Regions from separate parts of the Homo sapiens genome. Here regions 1 and 2 are each linked to region 3. Evidence: fine-mapped QTL for protein levels in blood plasma. Region 3 holds a variant in brackets. A gene starts in each other region. All regions are shown on their reverse strands. Distances are between the middles of the regions. Region 1 holds the start of CEP43 (centrosomal protein 43). Region 2 holds the start of METAP2 (methionyl aminopeptidase 2). Region 3 overlaps COPZ1 (coat protein complex I subunit zeta 1).

Evidence for each region. PIP is the posterior inclusion probability: the model's chance that the variant is causal. The UK Biobank Pharma Proteomics Project read protein levels with antibody pairs (Olink). The fine-mapping took linkage between variants from a reference panel, not from the people measured, so its PIPs are less certain.
Region 1: it holds the start of CEP43, and the variant in region 3 is fine-mapped to the plasma level of the CEP43 protein (UK Biobank, PIP 0.95).
Region 2: it holds the start of METAP2, and the variant in region 3 is fine-mapped to the plasma level of the METAP2 protein (UK Biobank, PIP 0.98).

What each region holds. Positions count from the first base shown.
Region 1 is chr6:166,991,575-166,999,848 of GRCh38, reverse strand. CEP43 (centrosomal protein 43) reads right to left here and starts at 452. Exons shown (of 13, transcript NM_007045.4): 1 at 335-452. The coding sequence starts at 436. MIR3939 (microRNA 3939) reads left to right here and starts at 1,937; the gene lies at 1,937-2,042. RefSeq lists silencers at 1-80, 91-250, 341-860, 1,151-1,380 and an enhancer at 1,921-1,970.
Region 2 is chr12:95,469,566-95,477,850 of GRCh38, reverse strand. It overlaps METAP2 (methionyl aminopeptidase 2), which reads right to left and starts at 3,699. Exons shown (of 11, transcript NM_006838.4): 1 at 3,521-3,699; 2 at 1,673-1,780. The coding sequence starts at 3,671. RefSeq lists an enhancer at 3,483-3,882.
Region 3 is chr12:54,329,502-54,335,499 of GRCh38, reverse strand. All of the region lies in intron 1 of COPZ1 (coat protein complex I subunit zeta 1), which reads right to left. Among named protein-coding and RNA genes, the nearest start is that of MIR148B, 4.7 kb to the left of the region's middle. RefSeq lists enhancers at 4,929-5,618, 5,619-5,998. The variant T/C (reference allele first, on the strand shown) is at 2,809.

The sequences.
Region 1 (8,274 bases), not on the chromosome of region 3:
CGAGCCTGAGGAAGAGACGCTGGGGCCGCACTCCAGGGCCCAGCTGCGGGCCGCCCGTGTGGCCCCCAAGCCCCGCGGTCCCGCCCCCACGGAATGAGGCAGGGGATGGGCCAGGCACCCCCAGTCCGCGGTGCCCTCCGGGACCACACGAACGAACGAGCCGACCCCCTCTGTGGGGCGGGCAGGACGGAGGCCATGCCGGGGCGCGCCCCCAGTGCCCGCCGGCCCCGGTCCCTCGCCAGGGAGGCGGCCTCCTCGCCGCGACCGTTGTGACGCCCGCTGTCCACGCAAGCCCTGCGGATCCGCCAGGCCCGGCCCCAGCCTCCGGCCTCACCTTGATGCGGTTCAGGACCCCGCTGTTCTCCAGCGTCTGCACCAGCAGGTCCCGCAGCTCCGTGTCCTCCTCGGCCACCACTGCGGCCGCCGTCGCCGCCATCTTGCTTCTCCAAGACAACCGCCGAAGCCGCGCTAACGGCCAACGGCCGCAGCAGGGTACGCTCCGCGCGCGGGCTACGCGGCCGACGCAGCCAAAGCCCCGCCCCGACGCGCAGCGCGCTGGCCCTGCCCCCTGGCGTCGGGAGGCGGGGCATAGAGACCTCGGGGTTGACGCTGGACACCGAGCCTTGGGGAGCGCCGGACCACTGAGCGCCGAAACTTAGGGTCGGCGCTGGGGGCGGGGCTGCGGGGCGCGGGTGGGCACGCAAGGGGCGGGGCGTCGGCGGGGCCTCCAGCCGGCAACCCGTTGGCTGCCGTCGCCTGAGGCGCGAGCTTTGAAGCCGGCGAGCGGTGAGGAGGAGGCGCCCTCGCGTGTGGAGAGCGGACTCCGCCTGGACTCCACCGCCCACGGCCGCATCCCATCGCCGCACAAGATCGCCGGAGTCATATTATCGACGTAGTTAAAGCCCACTAGCCTAAAGCCGGGCGGACTGCGGTAAGGAGGCCCCGAGACCGAACCTGCAGCCCCTGCAGCCCCGGGGGGGCGCCGGGGAAGGGACTCCCGAGAGGTCGCGAGGGGCGGAAGGCCCTGCAGGTTGTCACCCGGAAATAACGTTCTGAGGCCCCCCAGCCAGGCGAACGCACCCTGCTCGGCCACGGCCTCCGAGGCTAACCGGAAAGGTGCCAGGCCGAGGTGCAGGGGCGGGATGGCCCCAGGAAGAGCCGAGGGCCGAGGAGGGCGTTGGGTGGGCTCCGCGCTGCCCGAACTGGGGCCGCAGTCTCCACTCCCTCCTGCCCCGCGGCCCTCCGCCGACAGCCAGGCGCCGGCGGGGAGTCCTGGACCCCTCCCGGGCCCTGGAAGCCCCGTCCCGCCGGAGCTGACGCGCCCTCTTGGTATCCATCCGGCCGCCTGGGCTGCCCCTCGCCCCTCGCCTTGGCAAAACCAGCCCCCGGACCGAGCCCTGCCTTGGAGAGTGTGGGTGCGCAAGGCCAGCCGAGCTGTCGGTTCCGGGGTTTCGGGGTGCGCCACTGTATGGCGGCGTAAGCCGAGAAGTGTCCGAGGCCGGGCTCCAGCAGTTGAGAGGCTGATTTGGCCACGGTGAAGGACGCGCCCGGAGGAAGGAAACGGGAATCCGAAACGGGCGGTGGCCGCGCCTTTCCCGAGGCCGGCGTCGAGGGCTTCAGCGCCTCAGGGTGGGCGGGAGGGGAAGGTCGTGCGACCCGCGTGGCCGGCGGAAAGGAGCAGCGGGAGCCGCGGCCGTAGGGAAGCCACGGGAAGACGGGCGGCTGCGCTGCGATGCGCGGCCCTCTCCCTGAAGCCCTCGGCTCAGGCGCCACAGGAAAGGCTCCTTCGGGCAGGCCTCAGCTTTCAGCTTAAGTTTTTTTCCTTTGGCCGAGTCAACTGCGGTGCCGAGTTGTATTTTCCTTTCAGAGGTGTGTCCGAGAACCATTCTTAGGAGACGCCTGCCGGCCGCTTTGGGATAGGGCCTGTCTGCCCATGCTGGCTTCCAAAGGCCTCTGTGTGTTCCTGTATGTGGGCGTGCACGTACCTGTCACATGTGTACGCGCAGACCACAGGATGTCCACACTGGCTTCCAAACACATCTCTGTGTTTCTGTCTGTGAGTGTGTACGCAGGTGTCAAATGTGTACGCACAGATCACAGGGTGTCCACACTGGCTTCCAAACACGTCTCTGGGTTCCTTTATGTGCGTGTGTATGCACTTGTCATGTGTACACACAGATCACAGGGCATCCACACTGGCTTCCAAACATGTCTCTGTGTTTCTGTCTGTGGGTATGTACACACATATCACATGTGGAAGAGGTAGGAAGAGGCTGGAACAGGTAAGGGTCATGAAGGTGCAGTGCACTATTGTACTGTTTGCGCTTTATATGTGTTTGGTTAGTTTTGCAAGAACATGCTGGTGAAGGAGAGAGAACCCCAAACAATTGATTAGCAGTGCTACTGAAACTCAGATATACACAGGAATGGCAAAGAAACATCTATGAAAAAAAGCAGATTCTGGAACTCCATCTCCCTGAGATTGTCACTCATGGGGTCTGCAGGAAGTTTCAGGAATCTGCATTTTCTTCTAATAAACGTGGTCCACAGGTTATAAGTTGAGATACAAATAGAATATATAAAGTAAAAAAGGAAAATTTGAAGTTTCCTGCCTAGCCCAACTCTTCTCATTGGTAGTGTCTGTTAAATTGGAAACATATCTCTTTCCAGACATATTAATACCTTTTATACAGTTGACTCTTGAACAACATTAGTTTGAACTGCGTGAGTACACTTATATGTGGATTTTTTTCAGTAAATGGAATATTTTTGGCGATGGCAACAATTTTGTGAAAAACCTCACAGATGAGTCGCTTAGCCAAGAAATATGGAAAAAAAAAGAAAAGAAAAAGCTAGATATGTCATGAATGCATAAAATATATGTAGATACTAGGCCATTTTATTATTTACTATCATAAAATATATACAAGCCTGTTATAAAAAGTTAAAATTTATCAAAACTTACACGTACAAACAGACAGTTACATGGCACCCATTAGGTTCAAGAGAGGTGTAAACAGTTGTAAAGATGCAATATTAAATAATAACTGCATCAAATTCACTGTAGTACATAGAGTACTACTGTAATGATTTTGTAGCCACCTCCTGTTGCTATTGCAGTGAGCGTCAGTGTTGCTGGTATTGGCTAAAAATTCCAAGTAACATAATCATCTCTGAGTGAGCAGTTGATCTCTCCAGTACATTGCATATCACAGTAAAAGGTAAGCTCTTGAGGTTCTCACATATTTCTCGTTGTGTTCACTGCAGTACTGTAAACCTTGCGTAACACCATGGGACCATTACGAAGTGCCGCTAGTGGTGCTGGAAATGCTCCCAAGAATCAGAGAAAAGTTAATGACATTACAGAAAAAGCGGAATTGCTTGCTGTGTATTGTAGATTGAGGTCTGCAGCTAAGGTCGCCTGCCATTTTAAGATAAATGAATCCAGTATAAGGACTGTGGTATAAAAACAAAAGGAAGTTTATGAAGCCATCGCTGCAGCTACACCAACAAGCATGAAAACCTTGCACTTTTTGGGAAATACCTTTTTATCTCATATTGCAAATGCAGCTTTTTGTGGGTGCAGGATTGCTATGAGAAAGGCATACCTATATAATCTAATATTCAAGAAAAAGTGAAGTCATTATCTGACAAAGCAAAAGGAAGATGAAGGAAGGTATGATAATTTTAAAAAGTGGGTTGGCTTTCAAAAAATGTCAAGATAACAGGAGAAGCAGCTTCTGCTGACCCAGATGCAGCCGACGAGTTCCCAGATACCATTAAGGAAATTATTGAGGACAAAAGGCCAGGCTTTGTGGCTCATGCCTGTAATCCCAGCACTTTGGAAGGCTGAGGTGGGTGGATTGCTTGAAGCCAGGAGTTCGAGACCAGCCTGGCCAACATGGCAAAACCCTGTCTCTTCTAAAAATACAAAATTTAGCCAGGTGTGGTGGTGCACATCTATAATCCCAGCTACTGAGGAGGCTAAGGCATGAGAATCGCTTGAACCCAGGAGGCAGAGGTTACAGTGAGATTGCACCACTGCACTCCAGCCTGGGAGACAGAATGAGACTCTCTCAAAAAAAAATAAATAAAAAATAAAAATAAAAAAAAATAGAGAAAATCACTGAGGAGAAAAGATATCTGCCTGAACAGGTTTTTAAGGCAAACGAAAATGCCCTATTCTGGGGGAAAATAGTGCCACAGAGGATATTTATTAGGAAGAGAAGTGAACATCAGGATCCAAGGCGGGAAGGGATGGGCTAACTGTACTGTTTTGTGCAAATGCAGCCAGATGTATGATCAGGACTGCCCTTATCTATAAAATTGAGCCTTGAAGGGAAAAGAAACACTGCCTGCCACTCTTTTGGTTGTACAGCAAGATGGCTGAGCAGCAACTCTTTTTCTGGATCAGTTATATAAATGCTTTGTTTTTAAAGTCGGGAAGTACCTTGCCAGTAAGGGATTGCCTTTAATGTTCTTTTGATATTGGACAATGCCCCTGGCCACCCAGAACCCCATGAGTTCAATACAAACACATTGAAATGGTCTACATGCGCCTAAACACAACACCTCTAATTCAACCTCTAGATAAGGGAGTCATAAGGACTTTAAGGATCATTACACACAGTACTCTGTGGAAGAGAACCCCAATTGAGAGAATATCATGAACGTCTGAAAGGATTACACCATTGAAGATGCCATTGTTGTTTCAGAAAAAACCATGAAAAGCCATCAAGCCCAAACAAATTCCTGCTGGAGGAACTCCAGATGTTGTGCATCACTTCACAGGATTTATGACAGAGCCAATCAAGGAAATCATGAAAGAGATTGCAGATATGGCAAAAAAGGTTTCAAGATACAAATCTTGGAGAAATTCAAGAGCTAAGAGACACCACACCAGAGGAATTAACAGAAGACCACTTGATGGAGATGACTCCTTCTGAACCCAGTGCCAGACGATGAGGAAGAAGACGAAGCAGTGCCAGAAAACAAATTGACATTAGACAATCTGGCAGAAGGGTTCCACTTATTCAATATGGCTTTTGACTTCTCTTATAACATGGACTTTTCTATGAAACAGGCACTGAATCTAAAGCAAATGGTGGAAGAAGAATTGGTGCTAAATGGAAACATGTTTAGAGAAATGGAAAAGCAAAAAAGTCAGACAAATTATGATGTATCTCCATCAGATTACACTTATTGTGCCTCCCTCTCCTGCCTCCTCTTCCACCTCTTCTACTTCTGCCACCCCTGAGACAGCAAAGCCAACCCCCGCTTCTCAGCCTATTCAAGGTGAAAATTATGAGGACGGAGACATTTATGATGATTCACTTACACTTAATGGAGAGTAAATATATTTTCTCCTCATGATTTCCTTAAAACGTTTTCTTTAGCTTACTTTATTATAAGAATACAGTATATAACATATGTAACATACAAAATTGTCGAGTGCGGTGGCTCACATCTGTAATCCCAACACTTTGGGAGGCTGAGGCAGACGGATCACTTGAGACCAGGGGTTTGAGACCAGCCTGGCCAACATGGCGAAACCCCGTCTCTATTAAAAAGATAAAAATTAGCCAGACATGATGGTGCGTGCCTGTAATCGCACCTACTCGGGAGGCTGAGGCAGGAGAATCTCTTGAACCCAGGAGGCGGAGGTTGCAGTGAGCCGAGATTGCACCACTGCACTCCTTGCCTGGGTGACAGAGCAAGACTCCATCTCAAAAAAAAAAAAGTGTTAATTGTTTATGTTGTTGGTAAGACTTCCGATCAACAGTAGGCTGTTACTACAGTTTTGGGGGATGGAATTTTGACTGTGAGGGTCTGTGCCCCTAACCTCATGTTGCTTAAGGGTCAACTGTACATAGATATGTTACATACACACACATACTTCCTCCCTCTCTGTAATTTGGATCCTATGCCTATTATCTTTTAGTTTACTAACTTGACTTAAGAAGTCCTGATCATTTTTTGATGTTCATGCATACCGTATAGATCCTACCTCATTTGACTCCTACAAAATATTTGTTAAGGGTGTTCTAAAAGTTACTTTTTGTAGTTAAACTACACTTTATTTACATTTGTTTGTTATGGAAATAATGCATAATAATCGTTAAAAATCCAAACAAAAGGGGGGAACATATTAAAAGAAAAGTAAGGGTCTCCCTGCTACTCTACCTACCTACCCACCTACCTTATCTGTTACCATATCCTAGACCCAACTGCAATTAACAATTTCTGGTTTTAGTTCTTCTGGTTCTTTTCATTATAACCTTAAATACTGTACATATACATCTTGACTCACCAGCTGAAAATCCTTCAAAGGGACAAAAACTTATTCTTAACTCCTAATTTAAAAAATTGTATTACTTTTAGTTTTGCTAGAAGCTTTCATGACTTTAGGTTGTTTACCTAAATCATTATTTATAAATTTTACACACTGTATATTGGCTCCCTACTAGGAGAGGTGAGGAATTGGTACATTCTTACTTTCTCGTCTTTTCCCCTCCCCCTCCTAATTTTGTTAGTTTCATTCTCATTTTTAGTCTGTCAAGAATTTGCATTCTTTTTGTAAATAAAATTACAGACATCCCTTGGTATCCATGGGGGATTGGTTCCAGGACCTCTCGTATACACCAAAATCCACATACACTCAAATCCCACAGTTGGCCCTGTGGAACCTGTGGATATGACCATTCGCATCCCAAGAATACTGTATTTTCCACCTATTCTTGGTTTCAGTTGTGGAACCCACTGATATGGAGGGCCAACTGTATATATTGAAAACAATTTGCATATAAGTAGACCCACACTGGTTCAGACCCCTGTTGTTCAGGGTCAGCTCTATATCTTTCCAACTTTGTGCATTGATTGAAAAACCAACAACAGTATGATATTAGGGCTATAACAGATCTGTTAGGCCAAGCCCACATGCCCCTGAACAGAACATTCTGCACATTGGGCCAACTTCCAACTGCCGGCACCTGAAGTTATTTGCATTATCAGCTATCTTTGTCCACCAGAGCCTGCTCTGCCTGCATTTTGGGAAGACCTAAAGTGCCAAGGAATTAACACACCCTGCAAGTATGCTCAATTGAAGGCAATGAATAGAAAAAGACCCCTGACTCCTTCACCCCTGGATTTCAGGGAGGTAAATCCAAGATGTATGCTAAGGAGGTGACACTTAATGTCAGACACACACACCTGTTATGAGAGTTTCCTGATTGAATAAGAAAGAGGCATTCCAGGCAGAAGTACCCGAACATACAAGAGTGCAAGACCAAGAGGCTAAGGCAGATTGCTCTGTGCAAGAAGTGGCAGGTAGTGTGGCGTGGCTGGAGATGAAGAAATGACTGGATTGGGAAGGACTTTATCCACCAATCTAATGAATTTGACTTTCATCTTGAAGGTGTGAAATAGCGTGCTAAACAAGTTTAAAAGCAAAATGTCATTAGCCTATTTGTATTTAGAAAGAGCACTCCAGAAGCAAGGAGGGGATGGGTGAATTGGATGTACTGACACTGGAACAAGGAAATTATTCCAATAGTCCAGGAAAGAAGAAGGACATCAACTAAAATTGCACAAGTGAACATGGAAAAAAGAGGATGCGTCTGAGAAATATAAATATTGGCCGGGGCGGTGGCTCACACCTGTAATCCCAACACTTCGGGAGGGTGAGGTGGGCAGATTGCTTGAACTCAGGAGTTCAAAACCAGCCTGGGTAACATGGCAAAACCCCTCTCTACACAAAATACAAAAATTAGCCAAGCGTGATGGCATGGCCTGTAGTCCCAGTTACTCAGGAGGCTGAGGTGGGAGGATCACTTGAGCCTGGGAGGTTGAGGCTGCAGTGAGCCATGATCTCGCCACTGCACTCCCACCTGGGAGATAGAGTGGGACCCTGTCTAAAAAAAAAAACAAAGAAATATAAATATTGTATTAGGGTTTACCAAAGAAACAGAACCAATACGATATATGTATGTATACGGGTATATATATAAGGAGATTCATATAAGGAACTGACTCACAAGATCACTGAGGCTGGCAAGTCTACAGGATGAGCCAGCAAGCTGGAGACCCAGGAGAACTGATGGCATAGTTCCTGACCAGAGGCTAGCAGGCTTGAAATCCAGGAAGAGTCAGTGTTTCAATCTGAGTCTGAAGGCAAGAAACAAGCTGATGTCCCAGTCAAAAGATCAGAAGGCAGGAGAGATTCTTTCTTACTCAGGGAGGATCAGTTTTTTTGTTTTATTCAGGCTTCTAACTGAT
Region 2 (8,285 bases), 41 Mb before region 3:
TAATTCCCTTGAATCTTGGCACTTTTTTCCACCAAATGTTCACTATAAGCTTCTTGAAGGCAGAGAACATACCACTCTAAAGGAAAACAACTACTCTACATTACCCTAACACAATAATTACAGCCCCAACTAATGGTTAAAGACCTAACCCCAGGCTGGTGGTGCTTGAGGGGGAGCAGATGTTCTCAGTAGTAGGCAGCTACAAATAAAAAGAATGGGAAAGCCCCATTTTTCCTCCGCCAAAAGAGGCTGGAAAAAAGTTAAGTTTTCTTACCTGTCTCTTCCTTCACTGTTTTACTGATAACATCAATTAGCAGTTGCTGTCTTTAAAAAAATCTTATTGTACCCAAACACCCAGAAGGAGCTAGGGTCAAGGAATTTATAATAAAACTTAGTGCACTCCTATACGATTCTTTCAGAATGAAAAGAGTTAATTTTGGTATAGAGAGTAAAAGGAACAGGCCGGACACAGTAGCTCAAACCTGTAATCCCAGCACCTTGGGAGGCTGAGGTGGGCAGATTACTTGAGGTCAGGAGTTCAAGACCAACCTGGCAAAACCCCATTTCTACTAAAGATACAAAAAAATTAGTTGGGCATGGTGGCAGGCGCCTGTAATCCCAGCTACTCGGGAGGCTGAGGCAGGAGAATTGCTTGAGCTCGGGAGGTCGCAGTGATCCGAGATCACGCCACTGCACTCCAGCCTGTGCGACAGAGCGAGACTCGGTCTCAAAAAGAAAAAAAAAAATAGAGAGTAAAAGGAACAAACGTGCAGTCAGGCACTAGGTTTGAAATTCTGGCTCTATTCTACACATATTAGCTATGTCACTTTGGGTAAATCATGTAACTACCACTTCCCTATCTGTAAAATGAGATGGCTGGGTAAAGCCATGAAGGGCTGGGTAAAGTCAAAATAAATAGGAAAAGACAGTCCATTACCAAAAAACAAAATGGATATCTAAGCACAAGTAGGTTACTTTGCTTGGTTTTGTGAGGTTAAAATGTGAATGTATGTGAAAATAACCTAGGAAAGTATCTAGTACATAGTAGTTCTTCAGTAAGTATTAGTTAAATAAACAACCCCTCAATCTTATTAATACTCACTACTTTGCCTTCTACCAAGTATATTTTTAAACTCTGAGATCTGTCCTATCTGAACAGCTAATTAACACATTGAACTTTTTCAAGACTTGCTAATAAATACCTTTTCCTTTTTAATCTGTGACATTAATTGAGGTAACAAGTGAAATGTCAGAGAAAACACTATACGAGTAAATAAATTTTGATTAAGGAATATCACATTTTCTAGCTTTTCTTTCTTTCTTTCTTTCTTTCTTTTTTTTGAGACAGTCTTACTCTGCTGGCCAGGCTGGAGTGCAGTGGTGCAATCTCAGCTCACTGCAACCTCCATCTCTCGGGCTCAAGCAATTCTCCTGCCTCAGCTTCCCAAGTTGTTGGGATTACAGGTGTGTGCTACCACACCCGGCTAAATTTTTTTTTGTCTTTTTAGAAGAGATGGGGTTTCAACATGTTGGCCAGGCTGGTCTCGAACTACTGACCTTATGTAATCCACCCGCCTCGACCTCCCAAAGTGCTGGGATTACAGGTGTGTGCCACCACACCCGGCTACATTTTCTAGCTTTTCTAACCACAAAGATCAAATTAACCATTTACCTTCATCATCTTCATCTCTTTCTTTATCTTCCAATGCTGATCTTTCCAACTGTCTTGCTACTTCATCCACTGAGGCTCCTGATTCTTTATCAGGTTCCTGTTCCCCTGCTGATCAAAATAAAATAGCAGAAATCAAATCTAATACAGACACTTTCCCACTAGAATATGCTCTAATGATCTTGGAAAACTTACAAATCCTTTCCTCAGGAAACAAAAACAGAAACATTATTGTGAACATAACAGAATTCGTTTAATGACAGAAAAATCTTCCATACCTACACAGTATTGTCCATTCATTAATTTACTCAACAAAATATCCATTACACACACTAGCAGCTAAAAGATAAACAGCGTGAACTGGTCTCTATCCTCAAGTAGTTTAACTTGTAATAGTGGTCAGCAATTAGACTTAACAAATACTTAAACACCAGATAGGTAATAAATGCTGAAGGCCTTAGGAAAAAGATTCATGTGCAACACCCCGGGGCAGCCTGGTTTCATGAATAAGGATATCACGATGGGCTGGGTAAAGTCAAAATAAATAGGCAAAGACAGTCCATTACTAAAAAACTAAAACGCTCAAATATCTAAGCACAAGACCAGGCCCCTGCTCTGGAAGTGATTATAACCTACCTATAAGAGCAATATGTTACATGCATTAATAGTATCAGGTAGCACGAAATGAAGTGACATTCTGGCTACTGGAGAGAATTCATATTAAGAAATACAACTGTTAAAAATACATTAGGATCAGTCAGCTTAACACCTTACAAGACAAACAGCAGTGTTTGAATTTCACTCGAAATCCAGGAACAGCCACCAGAGTAACAAATTTTGCTCTGGAAGAGTTCCAGCAACGCTACAACTCTCCTTCCATTCCTATCTAATCAAAATTTCAGAAAGATGAAGATTAGCTCTCTTCGACCTCTCTCAATTCCATCTTAATCGCTTCTGACTTCTCCATTTTCTGTTTCTCTGGCGATTTTAATTAGAAACAAGTAAAAATAATTTTTATTAAGGTGAAGGAGCTTGTGCAGCAAAAACACAGACTTCTCAAAATATGTAAGTTCCTAGTTCATAATATCCAACTGTAAACTCTCAGCAGTTCTCCTTGCCTTACCAGTGGATTTAGAGGTTAAGACCTCAGAAGTTCCATTCTGAGCCACAGAATATCCTATCTGCACTGCCTGCAATTGGTATCATAATTCAGGTCTAAAGGCCCTAAAGCTTGGCGATGCTATGGGATTAGGCAGGTGAAAATTCGTTATCACCACCACAAATTCTGCAATTAATGACATGAGCGCGCGGGCAAACACACATGTACACACACCCCAAAAGTGCAGGCTGCAACAACCCCAACGTGAAACGGGATAGTGGGAGGAGGTGTGCTCTCCATTACATTTGCCCACCCCCAAAGAAAATAAGTCCTAGCTTGCTCCAGCAAACCAGCAAAGACGCGGCAATACGGATCAGAATCGGATTTTTGAGGCGGCGGCCAAATCGCGCGAAAGATGGTAGGGCTGTGCTCTGCGCACAATCTCAAGACCGTGCCACGATGTGCGTGGGAGCTGAGTTCTGGTAATACAGGGGCTCGGGCCCAGCGACCCCAGAGGTACCACACGCCAACCTCAGGCACTCTTTTCTCCCCCACCAGCCCTCTAGTCCCACAGGAGGAGATGACGCCTCTTCTCAGACTAGGAATCTATAGCCCGGCTTTGCCACCCTGTCAGGCCCAAGAATCAGTCTAGTCGGGGCTCTGGGGCCCCGGTCCCGGCCCCCTCAACGGGCCTGAGCCAAACAGTTCAGCCGTTCCCGGAGGGGACTGGGAAAACATAAAACTCTCTTTACCTGCAGAAGGCCCTTTGCTCTTCTTCTTCTTTCGTCTTTTTTTCTTGGCTGCTTCCTCAGCCGTAGAGGCAGCTCCTTCTTCCCTGTCGTCTGGATCCAGGTCGCCATTCAGGTGGCTCCCGGAGGCCGCTACCTCCTCCACACCCGCCATGTTGCCCGAGAGAGCGCGAGGGAATGAGACAGAGCGGCGAGGGCCCCGATCCTTCTCCACCCGCCTACACCAGCCACGCCGGAAGCTGCTCTCGATGGTAGGGACGCAGGGAATGCTGGGACGGCGGAGGACTCAGCTGAGGGTGTCGGGCTAGCTTCGGGCCGGGCGTGCAGGAGTCTCGGCTTGGAGCCCCGCCTGGCTGGAGTCGACTGGGGCCAGACCCGACTGCTTCGTCCGGTGCCTCGGGCATTCCCGAAGCAAATCGGCAAGCGCAGGGTGAAGTTTAAAGGGGAAGTTGAGCTCTAGAGTCAGCCGGAGATACCTGTGGAGACGGGCAACCCGCCGTAGCAAGCGGCGTCTCTGCTGGAACGGAAATATTTTATATTTGCGTTTTTATAAATCACACAGGCAGTGGGGAAACGGGCTAAGAAATGTGTTCACTTGTACACATTTCTATTGTCATGACTCCACATATCTCTTAAATCTAAGAGATTTAATCAAATCTGCGTTGACATTCACAATCACAGCTCTCCGCGAGGCTCTGTAGGCACTGGAGAGAATTTTGGAAGCTGGAGTTCCGTGTTAGTTTATTGTACTACTCAACCCCGGACGGTTCAAGATGGGAACCCGTCACACTCCGCTCACTTTCCAATTCAGGACAAGAATGACAGGTTTTAACACACGGGGACACGGTCTCTCTCATTAATGCAAAAGATCACACTCCGTTTTCTCTATTTCTGGTCACCTTTCTTTTGGATTTAGGACGTTTCACCAGAAACTAATTGAATTTTGCCCATTTCTTTACTTCTTATGTTTTGAGCCTCATGTTCAAACCGCAGTTTGAGATTTAGTTTGTGGCGTAAGTGGATTGTGATTGGCTGCCTGCACCAACTCCTTCTCAATTTCTCCTGAATATGGCTTTGTCCACCTGGAGAGTTTAGGTGTTTTCATTAGTTTTAAACTAGGCACCAAGCTTCATGGGCATCAAAATGTCGTTAAGAGCCTTATTGCCAGTGAGTTTACAGTAAACCTCACACAGGCTCTGACTGCAGCTGCATAAATGTACATTCTCTGTCTTAAAGCTTCAGGCAGCACCTATCCAATAGTAATAAAAACTGTTCCTCTTATTCTTGTACAGATCTTTATCTCTTTAAATCTATCCCTATTTAGATTTTAAATTGTTTTCCCTAGTTGATTGCTGGCAATATAAAAGTTGGTAAACCGGCCGGGCGCTGTGGCTCACGCCTGTAATCCCAGCACTTTGGGAGGGCGAGGTGGGCAGATCACAAGGTCAGGAGTTCGAGACCAGCCTGGCCAATATGGTGAAACCCCGTCTCCACTAAAAATACAAAAATTAGCCGGGCGTGGTGGCAGGCGCCTGTAGTCCCAGCTACTAGGGAGGCTGAGGCAGGACAATCGCTTGAACCCCGGGGGAGGTTGCAGTGAGCTGAGATTGCGCCACTGCACTCCAGCCTGGGCGACAGAGCGAGACTCCATCCCCCCCAAAAAAGTAAATAAAATAAAAAATAAAAAGTTGGTAAACCAAACATAATACCACAAAAATAAAAATAGAAGTAGCTTCCATGTGTCCAAAATCCTTTAAAATGCCCGGCAAGACCCAGCCATATCTACTTCTCCAATGTCTCCACTCTCTTACTATTATAGCTCCAGCTCTCAAAGCTCTTTCTGACCTTGGAGCATTTCAAACTCACTGTTACTTTTATCTGGGCTGCTCTTTGCTTGGCTGACATATTCACTTATTCACTCATCCATCCATTCGTTCAATGCCTACTATAAACCTAGATCTGGCAATATTTAGAGAGCAAAAACAGAGATGATCCTTGTCATCATAGAGCCAGTTAACAAAAATAGACATCAAGCAATGATGCTAATAAAAGCAAATTTACAACTGCTGCTATGAGAGCATATTACAAAGGGACTTGCCTAGGTAGGATGGCCTGGTAGAGTTTCCTGAGGAAGTAGCAATTAGGCTGAGATCTGAAGGATAAATAGGCAAAGGGGAGGGGAAAGGTTTAGAGAGAGTATTTTTTTTTTTTTGAGACGGAGTCTCGTTCTATCACCCAGGTTGGAGTGCAGTGGCCTGATCTTAGCTCACTGCAACCTCCGCCTCCCAGGTTCAAGCGATTCTCCTACCTCAGCCTCCCAAGTAGCTGGGATTACAGGCGCCCACCACCACACCCAGCTAATTTTTGTAGAGACGGGGTTTTACCATGTTGGCCAGGCTGGTCTCAAACTCCTGACCTCAGGTGATCCACCTGCCTCAACCTCCCAAAGTGTTGGGATTACAGGCATGAGCCATTGCGCCTGGCAGAGTATTCTTGGCAAAGGGAAGGTAAAGAAAAATTTAAGAGGTATTTAAGAGGAGACATGGATTCTAATACTAGAATGGTCATTTGGCTATAATTTTGTGACTCTGGACAGCCCATATATTTTTGAGCCTTGATTTTCTCATCTGTAAAACAGTAGGGAGTATAACACATTTAAAGAACTAAAAAACATCCAGAATGGCTGGAATGCAAAGAGGTGGAGAAGGGAGTGAGTGTGATGAGATGAGACTAGAAAGGTAAGAGCCTTGCAGGAAGGAAAGGGTAGGAGAGCTGACAGAGCCTTTTAGATCATACTAAGGGCTTTATACTTTGTCCTAAGAACAATATAAAACTCTTAAGTATTTTATTTTACTTTTTTTATTTATTTTTCAGACAGGGTCTCATTCTGTTGCTCAGGCTGGAATGCAGTGGCGTGATGTCAGCTCACTGCAACCTCTACCTCCTGGGTTCAAGCAATTATCCCACCTCAGTCTCCCAAGTAGCTGGGACTACAGGCACATGCCACCACACCCAGCTAATTTTTGTATATTTTGGTAGAGACAGGGTTTCACCATGTTGGTCAGGCTGGTCTCAAACTCCTGACTTCAGGTGATCCACCTACCTCCCTTAAGTATTTTATTTTTATTTTTTATTTTTTTCTGAGATGGAGTCTTGCTCTGTCGCCCAGGCTGGAGTGCAGTGGTATGATCTCGGCTCACTGCAACCTCCGCCTCCCGGATTCAAGCAATTCTTCCACCTCAGCCTCCCGAGTAGCTGGGACTACAGGTACGCGCCACCACACCCAGTTAATTTTTGTATTTTTAGTAGAGACGGGGTTTCACCATGTTGGCCAGGCTGGTCTCAAACTCCTGGCCTCAGGTGATCCGCCCTCCTCAGCCTCCCAAAGTGCTGGGATTATAGGCATGAGCCACTGTGTCCAGCCCCCTTAAGTATTTTAATGGTGAGGAGACAGTTAACCTGATGAGAGTTGCAATTAACATGATTAGATTTTTGAAAAGATCACCATGGCTGCAGTGTACAGAGTAGAGTTGAGGGTGGCCAGAATGAAAGCAGGGAGATCAGTTTAGAGGCTATTACAGTCAATAGGTTATAGTGGCTTGAAAGGGAATGATGATGGGTATGACCAAAAAAATGAATAGATTTAAGAGATATGTGGGAGATAAAATGGGCAAGACTTGGTGATGAATTGTATAAGGGATTTGAGAGAGAAGAAGATATCAAGGAATCCCCTTCGGTGTGTGCTGGTGAAACTGGATTGACTGGTAATGTAATGTAAATAACAGAGATAGAAAAACATTTCAGATTTGAAAGGGAAGATTATGAGTTAGATGTGAGACATGCTGAGTCTGAGGTGTCTTGGGGCATTAAAGTGGAGCTGTGAAGAAGGTGGATAACTATAAGGAACTGGAGATCAAAAGAATAGTTGGAGCAGATATAAAAATTTGAGTCATCAACTAATAGATGGGAATTGGAACTTTGACACAGATAAGATCATCCAGCAAGTGGATCTAGACATGAGAGTCTACCTGTACTGCACAGCATGGTGGCCACCTACCACGTTGCCACTGAGCACTTAAAATGCTGCTAGTTCAGGCCGGGCGCGGTGGCTCACGCCTGTAATCCCAGCACTTTGGGAGGCCGAGGCAGGCGGATCATGAGGTCAGGAGATCGAGACCATCCCGGCTAACAAGGTGAAACCCTGTCTCTACTAAAAATACAAAAAATTAGCCAGGCGTGGTGGTGTGCACCTGTAGTCCCAGCTACTCGGGAGGCTGAGGCAGGAGAATGGCGTGAACCCAGGAGATGGAGCTTGCAGTGAGCGGAAATGGTGCCACTGCACTCCAGCCTGGGCGACAGAGCAACACTCCATCTCAAAAAAAAAAAAAAAAATGCTGCTAGTCCAAATTGAGTTATGCCATAATTTAGAATACACACTGAATTACAAAAACTTAATACAAAAATACTAAAGTTTCTCAATAATGTTATATTTATTGTTGAAATGATAATTTTTATATAGAGTTAAATAAAAACATCATTAAGATTGATTGTTACCTGTTTCTTTTTACTTTTTAAAATGTGGCTACTAGAAAATTTAAAATTACGTGAGTGACTATTGGAAATGTAAATTGTCAACCTTAAAAAAAAGACACTAGAGGCTAGGCATGGTTTCTCACACCTGTAATCCCAGCACTCCAGGAAGATCACTTGAAGCCAGGAGTCAGAGACCAGCCTGGGTTACCAAGCAAGACCCCCTCTCTACAAGGAA
Region 3 (5,998 bases):
GAGGCAGAGGTTGCGGTGAGCTGAGATCGCACCACTGCACTCCAGCCTGGGCGACAGAGCAAGACTTCAGATCAAAAAAAAAAAAAACATTCCCTAAGGCCATACCAAAAGGGCCTGATGTGGCATTACCCTGATGTGGCAATGGGTCTTGGTGAATTAAAAACTGTAACAAGATTCTCTTGTCTCAATCCTGTTTATAAAGTAAAACTAAGAAGGTAAAAACTAGAAGGAGAAATTCCTAGATACCACTCCCAGCTCCAAATGGCTAAGTAGGTATACTTCCTGACTCTGTGCCAACACTTTTTTTTTTTTTTTTTTGACAGAGTTTCACTTTGTTTCACTTTGTTGTCCAGGCTGGGGTGCAGTGGCACAATCTTGGCTCACTGCAACCTCCGCCTCCTGGGTTCCAGCAATTCTCGTGTCTCAGCCTCCTCAGTAGCTGGGATTACAGGTGACTGCCACCATGCCCAGCTGATTTTTTTTATTTTAGTAGAGATGGAGTTTCACCATCTTGCCCAGGCTGGTCCTGAACTCCTGAACTCAGGCAATCTGCCTGTCTCGGCCTCCCAACATGCTAATATTACAGGTGTGAGCCACTGCACCTGGCCTCTGTGCCAACTTTTATTTATTTTTTTATTTTTTTGAGACGGAGTCTCACCCTGTCGCCCAGGCTGAAGTGCAGTGGTCTGATCTCGGCTCGCTGCAAGCTCTGCCTCCCGGGTTCACGCCATTCTCCTGCCTCAGCCTCCCGAGTGGCTGGGACTACAGGCACCCACCACTACGACCAGCTAATTCTTTTGTATTTTTTTTAGTAGAGACGGGGTTTCACCGTGTTAGCCAGGATGGTCTAGATATCCTGACCTCATGATCCACCCGCCTCATCCTCCCAAAGTGCTGGGATTACAGGCATGAGCCACCGTGCCCAGCCTGTGCCAACTTTTTTAAAATTAAAAGCTCCTCTGGGGTTAAGGGCTCCAATTTGCCAGCCACAATCCGATAGACTTCAGATGAAAAGAAAAGAAGAATTAGCTAAAGTCTTTGACAGGGAAGAGCAGTTTTTACATATCAGATTTTTTTTTTTGAGACAGTGTTGCTCTGTTGCCCAGGCTGAAGTGCAGTGGCGTGATCTTGGCTCACTGCAGCCTCTGCCTCTCGGGTTCCAGCAATTCTCCTGCCTCAGCCTCTCAGGCAGCTGGGATTACAGGCGCTTCCCACCACGCCCGGCTTATTTTTGTGTTTTTTGTAGCCTGGCTTATTTTTGTGTTTTTTGTAGAGACGGGGTTTCGCCATGTTGGCCAAGCTGGTCTCGAACTCCTGACCTCAGGTGATCTGCCCACCTTGACCTCCCAAAGTGCTAGGATTACAGGCATGAGCCACCACGCCCAGCCTATATCAGATTTATTAATATTATTATTATTTCTTGTCACCCAGGCTGGAGTGCAGTGGTGCCATCACAGCTCACTGCAGCCTCAACCTCCCAGGCTCAAGCGATCCTCCCCGTTCAGCCTCCCAAGTAGCTGACTACAGGTACATGCCACCACACCCTGCTAATTATTTCTGTATACACACAAGATTAGATTCAAAAAGCACAGCTCAGGAAAGAGTGGGAGCCACTGGTACCACAGAACACTACCCAGCTGACATGAGACCAAATATTGGTTATAAAGAAAAAACTCAACACATGACTCGGGAAGAACTGACGGCAGGAAGAGACACCTACAATCTTCCTATCTGACACAGACCCAAAACATGTAAAGCACAGTCAACAAGAGTTTTGATATTACAGGAGAAAATGTCTCTAAACTCCTACAATCCATCTCTTAAATAGAGACAGGGTCTTGCTATGTTGCCCAGGCTGGACCTGAACTCCTGGGCTCAAGGAGTCCTGCCTCAGCCTTCCAAATAGCTAGGACTACAGGCATGCACCACCATGCCTGGCTACAATACTTGTACTATAATGGGGATCAGCCATTAACTCAAATTTTCCCTTTCTCTGAGATTCAGCTTCTTCATCAGAGAAATGAGAGGCTTGACCTAGATCAGTTAAGGTTAATGCCTTTTTTGAGTTACAGCAGACCCCTTTGATAAACCAATTACATCTATGGACCTTATTCCCAGCAAAATACATTCACAAATTTTTTTATGATTTCATGGCTAGGCATGCTGGTTCCTACCTGTAATACCAGCACTTTGGGAGGCCAATGTGGGGACAAATAGCTTGAGCTCAGGAGTTTGAGGCCAGCCTGGGCAACATGGCGAAACCCTGTCTCTACTAAAAATACAAAAAAATTAGCTGGGCATGGTGGTGCATGCCTGTAATCCCAGCTATTCAGGAGGCTGAGGCATGAGAATTGCTTAAACCCCGGAGATGGAGATTGCAGTGAGCCAAGATCATCGCACCACTGCACTCCAGCCTGGATGACAGAGCAAGACTCTGTCTCAAAAAATATATATATAAATAAAAATAATTTTTTTATGATTTCAAAGAGTTCACAGAGCCGAGTTTAGAATTAAATGAGATTCTCTCTGGAGATAATAAGATGGTGTGGAGGGGGCAGGAAAAAGAGGGGAAATGAGTGATACTTTTGTAAACCACCCCCTCTACTCTACCTGGCATCCAGTAATGCTGGATAAATTCAATAAATGTGTGTGTGGCCTTCATAAATTAATAAATATGATTGAGAAAACTAACAGCCAGCAGGGGGAATAAAGGTCAGCAACCACGCTCCCTCCAGCTTTCTTTTTTTTTTTCCCTTTTTTTTTTTAAGACTGAGTTTCATTCTTGTTGCCCAGGCTGGAGTGCAATGG[T/C]GCAATCTCAGCTCACTGCAACCTCCACCTCCCAGGTTCAAGCGATTCTCCTGCCTCAGCCTCTCAAATAGCTGGCATTACAGGCACCCACCACCACACCTGGCTAATTTTGTGTTTTTAGTAGACAGGGCTTTGCCATGTTGGTAAGGCTGGTCTCGAACTCCTGACCTCAGGTGATCCGCCTGCCTCAGCCTCCCAAAGTGCTGGGATTACACGCGTGAGCTACCATGCCCAGCCACCTCCAGCTTTCAATGGCTGAATTTGATGACTGTGAAATGGGCAGGACAAAGACAACCAAACCCTAAGCTTTTTAGGAATGCAAAGTCTCAGGACCTTTCTCAAAACTCAGAAAGCCTGTCTGTTGGAAAATTTTTTTTTTTTGAGACGGAGTCTCACTCTGTCGCCCAAGCTGGAGTGCAGTGGCTCACTGCAACCTCCGCCTCCCGGGTTCACGCCATTCTCCTGCCTCAGCCTCCTGAGTAGCTGGGATTACAGGCGCGTGACACCATGACCGGCTAATTTTTGTATTTTTGGTAGAGACGGGTTTCACCATGTTGGTCAGGCTGGTCTCAAACTCCTGACCTCGTGATCCGCCCGCCTCGGCCTCCCAAAGTGCTGGATTACAGGCGTGAGCCACCGCGCCCGGCCTTGCTGGAGGATTTTTTACCCAGGGGTCACATAGTCCCTAATTCTTCAACTATCATGGAAGTGAAAGAATCACAGAAATGAGGGACAAAGCAGTACTGCTGGGAAGAGAGATGAACTGAATAAGGAGAAATCAGACTATACTCCAGACCTGAGGCCTGAGAGCACCATTAGAACATTCTGCCTTCTCAGTTTGGTAATCCAGGAGCCCTCACTTAAATAACACTCAGCAAAGGAAAAAAATCAAAAGGGGCTAGATCCATTCCTGATGAGTCCTGGGTCACGATTTGTATCATGATTTATCCCTTTACTCCCCCCCACATCTCCCTGCTTTTGCTCCTGAAAACAAAAAGCTAGTCTCTGAGAGACTGAATTGACAGACTCTGTGTTATCTTTCAGTCTATTTATGCCCCCAAATCAACCCCGAGGCAGAATTGCTCTATTCTCCTCTGGTTTTAGTCTCCCTCTAAAACCACACAACAGAAAAGGAGTTGCAGAAAATTAGTTGACCGAGCTATCCAGGGCAATTGGCTATGGATGGGATATCTGCATTGAGAGTGAGAAAATAGGCCGGGCGCAGTGGCTCACACCTGTAATCCCAGCACTTTGGGAGGCCAAGGCATGTGGATCACAAGGTCAGGAGTTCGAGGCCAGCTTGGCCAACATGGCGAAACCCCGTCTCTACTAAAAATACAAAAATTAGCCAGGCATGGTGGTGGGGGCCTGTAATCCCAACTACTCGGGAGGCGGAGGAAGGAGAATCGCTTGAACCTGGAAGGCAAAGGTTGCGGTGAGCCAAGATCATGCCATTGCACTCTAGCCTGGGCAACAAGAGCAAGACTCTGTCTCAAAAAAAAAAAAAAAAAAAAAAAAGAGTGTGAAAATAAAAAGCCAAATAAAAAAGCAGGCTTCATCTGCAGCATATATAACTTAGATTACACAACAGGAAGGACTTCCTGAAGAGATGGGTGTGGTCAAACACCAGAAGAGGTGACACAGGCTAGGGAATGTAAGGCCAGGAGAGATCCCCCTAATAATCTGATGTAAGGAAACCTATTCTGCCCAAAAACAGGAGGGACAGAATGTGAGAGGGCCCTTGCCAGCACAAGCATCTTACAAGTGCATGGACTCATTCTCTGAATCCATCTTCATCAGCTGTCCCCTGGGCACTCTGCCTTTCCTCTTCCTAATTACTCCAGCACAAGTGGGTACATAGGTACTGATTCTTTATCCCTGCTCCATCTGATTTGCTCCTCTAGTTTCCCTTTCCACAACCTGTTTTCTTGTCAACATCCAGACTCTAATCAAGCCATGTCAATGGAGTAAAGTAAGAAACAGCAGCAAGTATCTAGATAAAAAAGACCCTAAACCTGCCACTAGGCTCCGTCAAATACCTGGATAATTGCACTCATCCTCTGCCTCCCAAGGCAGACCTGGCTTCTCAAGGGTCTGGTTTTCCTCACATGGAGGCCCCCTCCTCCTCTTCTGACCATGTGACAGCTCCCCTAGATCTTTGATATAATTTATACCTTGCCAGGGACCAACTCTTTCCCACCACTGTGAAGAAGAGGGAAAAAATATATATAAATACGTCGGAAATCTATAACAAGGTCTTCTTGGAGGGCAAGACATGGGGAGAGTTAGAAGCAGCGTCAATTGCTCTTTGGGGGTTTTAGTTCAAGCCGAGGTCTGCTTCCAGCAATCAACCATTAAAACAAGCTGGCCAGAGTAACAGCACAGTTTATTCTGATCATTTAATTTGAAGTGTCAATAAATTAAACTTCAATCAATTAAACTAGGTGTGCAATAACCCAGATGGACACCCCGACACCAACATAATCACAATAAAAATTTTTATTGCTGCCAGGGACCTCACCGGGGGCAGTGCTGGCACTGCTCGCGCCCTAGCTGAGAAATATATCTCCACAGCGCAGGAATGAGGAGATTGCTTCTCCTAACAAAATGGAGGGGGCCAGGCACCAGCAAGGACGCAGCTGGGAGAGGGGCACAGGGGACTGCCAGGAACGAGATGGGAGTGCTTTAGGGGCTTAATGTAATTGATACCTTTGCCCAGAGCAGGGGGAGGGGGGCATTTAGGCCAAGTACCTCTACTGTTAGGGCCAAAGGAATTTAACAAAAGCCCCATTAAGATGATTCAGGAAGCAAAGGCCAAGGAGCAACATCAACCTTTAAAGTCATTGACATATTCTGCATAGTTTCCTCCTCCATACATACTCATATCCTTGTGCACTTTGGATGGCCTGATTTTTTAATGAGGCTTAGAATTTAGGATTTGGTTATGGTTTTAAAATATTAAGGTAAGACAAAGTACAGAATTAGAAGTCTAGTCTGTAAAGCACTGGAGAAGCACTCTGAAAGTGAATCCAGAGAGGATTAGGAAAAATAAAACCTATGAACAAAGATTTAAAGATCTAAACCGATACAGAATTCAGTTTTGTTTGTTTTTTAAGACAGAGTTTCACTTTTTGCCCAGGCTGGAGTGCAATGGCCCTCGGCTCACTGCAACCTCCGCCTCCCAGGTTCA